Linked DNA regions of Homo sapiens: region 2 is linked to region 1. The links come from fine-mapping of genetic effects on gene expression. A gene starts in region 1. The other region holds a variant in brackets. All regions are shown on one strand. Distances are between the middles of the regions. Region 1 holds the start of GALC (galactosylceramidase). Region 2 overlaps HISLA (HIF1A stabilizing long noncoding RNA).

The links.
Region 2: its variant is fine-mapped to the expression of GALC in monocytes after Pam3CSK4 (Quach 2016, PIP 0.95).

What each region holds. Positions count from the first base shown.
Region 1 is chr14:87,991,774-87,994,689 of GRCh38, reverse strand. It overlaps GALC (galactosylceramidase), which reads left to right and starts at 1,508. Exons shown (of 17, transcript NM_000153.4): 1 at 1,508-1,720. The coding sequence starts at 1,526. RefSeq lists enhancers at 1,171-1,500, 1,195-1,695 and a silencer at 1,651-1,840.
Region 2 is chr14:88,036,826-88,039,741 of GRCh38, reverse strand. All of the region lies in intron 2 of HISLA (HIF1A stabilizing long noncoding RNA), which reads right to left. Among named protein-coding and RNA genes, the nearest start is that of LINC01147, 12 kb to the right of the region's middle. RefSeq lists an enhancer at 1,973-2,474. The variant T/CTT (reference allele first, on the strand shown) is at 1,254.

The sequences.
Region 1 (2,916 bases):
TCGGGTTCTTAATGTGCATATTTATTGGATTGCCCAGAGCTTTGACCTTCAAGTATAATTGAGTTCTTGAAACTTAGATTTAGGTTTGTGGTTAAGGGGCAAAATAATCAGATTCCAAATAGGGTTCTGCAGACAAATCCCACAGGTCCTAAAGTCTCTGGGTCTTTTCCTTGCCATTGTGGTATCTCAGGGGCTTGTGTAGGCAATGATAACCAGTTCCATACTTCTGCTAAGAGAAATTTGGGGATCAGAAAATCTTTCTCTGCAGCTCTTCAGAGTCTCTTTAATTTACTTCAATAACAAGGAAATCAGAAATCTCAGGACAGTGCTGGATGTGGCAGAAATTCAGGGCAATTCACAACTTTCCTACCAATTTAGAGTTACCTGTCTGGAATCACTTCAACTGACAGTGGAAGATAGTTTATAAAATTGTAGGGGAGGCAAAATTTCACCTTCGTCCCTGTAGGGTCCCAGCATGGCCCTAGTATTAAATTGATTTAAGATATTAATAGACTGACAGGAGACAACCACACAAATGTTTATTTTACATAGCACGGGGGCCCTCATTAAAAAAAAAAAAGACCTAAAGCAGCAGTTAAGAGCCAATTGCTTATAGAGTGAAATGGACAAAAAATAGTAGTTGTGAAACATGATAAGGCGAAGGGGCTTGGGGTAAAGAAGCGACTAGAAAGATAGGGATTAACAAATTTTGTTTGGACAGATTTCCCTCGACTTCAACTTTCTGTCCTTGAAGATAACAATGTTATTTTATAGGGAAGACATCTTTCACATGGGAATTTCATCTCCTCCTTTTAAGACACATAATATCCATGACAGTGATCTTGCACCTGCTGTTTTTAAGTGCCTTTAATTTAAAATAGTCAATATGCCACAGCAGCATATTTTGAGGTGGTATATTATTAACTCCTTCAAGGCTAAAAGCTTTGAATATGCCGGGGTAGTTACCAGACTGGAGAACCTTCTCAGCTATTTGCCACTTGTGGAATGCATTCAAATGTACTGAGTGCTTATTAACTTTTCTCTCAGTCCCTCACTCTGCTGCTCTTCTCGCCTCATCTCACATAAGGGAAAACTCAGGCTCCAAAAGCAAAGTGATTCCACCAAGATGACAATGGAATCGGGACCTGGTGTCCAAGCCTGGTCCTCGCACGAGGTAGATACTCCCTGAGATGCTGGGGAAGAGCCATGGTAGGGCCACTCATGGCCCTCTTCCTTTGGCGGACCTTGGAATCCACCTTCCCTGCGTTAAAGTGCTCCACCAGGTGACGCCGGAAGAGAAGCCAGCAGTAAGTACATGTGAAATCCAGTAGCTGACCACAGACACGCGAGCGATAAGAAAAAGCTCGCTGCTTCTTTTCTCAACACTCCGCCAGCTGCGTCAGAGGCCCTTGACCCGCACTCAAAATGGCGGCGGCGGCGTCAGCATCAGCGGCCTCCTGCCCGTATCTATCGTGGCGGCGACGGGACCCGCCTCCCTGGGCGCCGGAGTCATGTGACCCACACAATGGCTGAGTGGCTACTCTCGGCTTCCTGGCAACGCCGAGCGAAAGCTATGACTGCGGCCGCGGGTTCGGCGGGCCGCGCCGCGGTGCCCTTGCTGCTGTGTGCGCTGCTGGCGCCCGGCGGCGCGTACGTGCTCGACGACTCCGACGGGCTGGGCCGGGAGTTCGACGGCATCGGCGCGGTCAGCGGCGGCGGGGTGAGCGGCAAGCTGCGGGGATACGCGGGGGGCGGCAAGAGCCCGCCCCGTGGGGCCAGCCCCACAAGCCCCCGCGGCGTTGCCCTGCGTTTCCACCGGCTCCACTCTCCGCCGCATTCCCCTAGGGTGCCAGTCAGCAGGCGGTTGGGGCGGGCCCGCTGCGGGGCTGGGGCGGGTGCTTTCTCGTTTAACACGAACCAGACAGGCAGTTAGGTTTGAACAAATGAGGATCCGGAGGTCCAGAGAGTATAGGTGCAGAGAGTAAAGTGACAGGTCTAAGTAGTGAAGTAGCCGGGGCTGGAACCCTCGTCCCAGGCAGTGGGGCACAGGCTGTCTTCATCGCGGAGATGGCAGTCGGGGAGCGTCGCTCCAGAAAGGGCCAGGGAGTGCGGGAGCGTCCGTGTGCGAAAGAGAACGCCCCAGTGGGATGCTTTGGCTGTGTCTCTCCCTTTTGGAGGAGTTGGTGGGTGGTGGAGTCGTTAAGTCCCGTGCAGTTGTTAGTGCAGGGTAAGAATGGGCTCCTCCAGAGAGGGTAGCGCCGAATAGGATTTCGTTTGGAGGCAGGACTGGTGCCTCAAGGTCTCTTTAAAAGGAAGATAAGCGAGCGGCCTGAAACTACCGGGTACTCCCTCTGGGCCCATGGGCTTCATGGTGGCCGACCTTTGGGTGAGAAGGTTTTTGTTTTTTGGTTTTGTATCCGAAATTACATCTAGGGCTAATGTTTCTTGAAAATGTTAAGGTTGAACTCGGATTTTTGGGGTTGAGTTGGATGGAGCTTGCATCCTTACATTCAACTCAGAACAAGCTTGAATGCCTGCTGCAAGGATGACCTGGTCTGTAGTGTGACCACAAGATATAACCTTCTGCTAGGGGAAATTTTTTTCCCCCTGGAGTTAGCTGATCCTTTTTGATTTTTATGTTTTCATTCCCTAATTTGCAATCTCTCCAGCCGTGCTGATGTGTATTTCAGGGGAAACCTGTGGGCCGATGAGTTAATGCATTTATTCTTTGCTACTACTATTCTCCTTTTTATGTTTTTGGGCTAAACCTGAAACAGCCAATATTTCATGGAGTGAGGCCCCATCTTTTTTATAGCTTTACTTGTGATACTATATCTAGGGTAAGAGCTTACCGAAAAATGGAAGTCTTTGTTTCCATTAGGTTTATTAAGCCCAGTTTAAAATTACTAAGATGAG
Region 2 (2,916 bases), 45 kb before region 1:
AAATAGACATTGTTACTTTTACAGTGATGTGTTAGAGTATTCTGAACTGCAGTTGAAATAAAACCCAAATTCCAGTGGCTTAAAAACAAAAAGTTTTTATAATAGGATTTGGATTGATGTCAGCTCTCCTCCACAGTCACTTAGTGGTCCCTATAGAGCCATTTGGGGATAGCTCTGCCATCCTCAATATGTGGCATCTAGAAGTTATACAAAGCTTTGCCACACCAATCAACCAGTAGAAAGAAAGAACATATTGGGATAAGTGTGAGGTTTGTATGGGCCAAACGTAGAGGTGACATGTGTCACTGCAATCATGTTTCACTGAAGAAAACTTGGCCACTTCACTGCGAGGGAGGCTGAGTAATGCAGTTTAGCTCTGTGCCAGTAAGAAGGGGAGAATGGATTTTTAGTAGGTAGCTAGCAACCTCTATCACAGTTAGCCCCTTTTGCTGCTATCATCCTTTACATAAAACATACGTGCATATTACTCTGGGGAGAAAACCCAAAATTTTGTCCACTTATTGAATTGTCTACTTGTTGATATCAAAGTCGAGGATCTCCAAATGATGCTCTGGCCTCTTCTGAAAGTCCAGATACAGTTCCTTGAAGTTCAGCATCCTTTGAACTAAAAGACCAGTTATCTTTGCTCCATCTGCCTATTCAATACACAAAAGTGGACTGGCTAACCACACTAAAAATGCCTAAAGAATTCCCTGGTCCAGAGCAATAATGGAATCCTGTAGGGTAGGTATTGCAAAGATCCCCAAACCCTAGAAGAAAATGTTTTGATAGACCCTGGGTCTGTCCTCTGCAAGGAACTTTCTTCCTCATTTTCCTCTGTCTCTTGGCTCTGACCTCCTGGAGAATATTTTTGTCCGTTAGCCTCCATGGACCCTTATACGGTGAATATTGAGGAGTATGTTACTAGGAGTTGCACATCTCCCAGAGCCCACTTTCTGCTGTTACATGAGGGTAATTTTACAGATTCAAGCTTGTGGTTTCCTGGGCATTACGGTTTTCTCAAAAACTCGATAGGTATCTGACCTATTTGTTTCCAGTCAGTTTCATGTGCTCGTAAATAACCCCCAAATTCTTTTCTAGACCTGATCTAAGGTTTGTCTTCCTGGAGCATACCATCTATTCCGCCATCATGGAATCCACATTGAAGTCTAAAATAGCCTGGGTGGCAAAGCAACTTTATTGATATTATCTTTGCCACTTGGCTGGATCTCTCTCTCTCTCTCTCTCTCTCT[T/CTT]TTTTTTTGATCTGCAAATCTTATCTTTTCGTATTTGAGGTATAGAACCCAAGAGTTTTTTCAGCCCCAAGAAGCTTTGTATTTTTTTTTCCAGTTCCACTTTGGCTGGCAAACTAACCAATTCTTGCTTGAGTTTATCTGTTTCTTGTAGCACTTGATTAAAAACAACAAATAGCAGTTGACATACACTAATATTCCTACTCTTTTCACCTGCTTTCCCTAAAGCCACAGACTCAATACGTTCTTGGTCTACCTTCCAAATAATCACAGATGATAATTTTTAAAGTTATCCATGGATAACATGAGGCTTTCACTTTCTAGCCACTCATAACCATTTTATTCCTGCCTTCAGTCTGAATGCTAAGCTAATACCTTCCATTTTAGATGTTTGTTATAGTGCTTACTTTTCGGTACTAGTTCTCATATGAAATAAGGAAGATGGCAAACACAGGGACCCAAAACATCCAGTAGCTTACAAAAAATGTTTTCCTTTCTCAAGGGGGAGGTTTAATCAGCAGCAACAGCGATACTGTTTTTCAGGGATTCAGATGTTCTAGTGAGTCTGCCATTTTCTACTCCTGGCTGCCAACATTGCCTCATGGTCATCATCCCAGTCAGCCAGGAAAGATGAGGAGGAGGAGGAGCATGAGTGGGTGGTTTCAGGACCATCTAAACCTCATTTTACAGATAAGAAAACTAAGAATTTGGCTAAGGTCACATAGCAAGAGTTTAGTGTGGTATCTTTGGGACTAAAATTCAGGTCACCTGCCTCCCACCTCATTACAGCATCCATCACACACACTTATATCCAGTCAAGCTACCCTGACCCAGTAGCACACTCCATGTCTAACCTCCTGCTGTGAAATGCCAACTGCTTTTCAGTCTGCATTAAACCATGGAGCCACATCGTGAATGTGCCATTGGAGAAATACAACAGGATGAATTCTTAACTTTCAGGCTCCCTATTGTCCTCATATATATTACTCCAACTCTCCACAGGGAATCTGAGTTCCAAGGGGTGAGTGAAACAAATTCTGCATAGCCATTACCTCATGTTAACAATGGCTTGGTGATAAACATCCATGGATTGCAGGATGCCTCTAGCAGGGACAGCAGCTTGTTTTTCACAGGGCTTGTTCTAGAAATGGACATGGAAAGGGAAAACAACTTACGCTTGTTTGTTTTTGATCGAAAAAGTGGGCAAATTTAAAATGCATCGGTATGTATTCTTATACATTTGTGTGTCCTGGTTATTTCTTGCAAAACATTCTATGTGGCTCCAGTCATTCACACATAGACCGGCAGTAGTGTTTCCCAAAGGGACCCTTAAGGAATTCTGTTTCTTTGAGATATTTCATGAGAGCATGCAGAGAGAGCTGCAGTCTGTCTCTTGCCTCTAGAAACATCACCTTTCTCATTAGCAGATAAAAGGCCTTGGAAGTCCTTTCATTTAGCCCATTTCCCAAACTTCTTTGATCATGGAACCCATGTTGATTTTTTTCATGTACCGTCCTTAGAACTCAGGTTCCATGGGACACTCTTGGGAAGTCCTGGCTTATGAGTATCCTCCAGGAGTTTAACACCCTGGAGGGGGACTTTTGGTCACAATGACTCTCTGTAGAACCTCATAAATGCAGTTCTAGCTGTGAGCCTGTCACCAAGG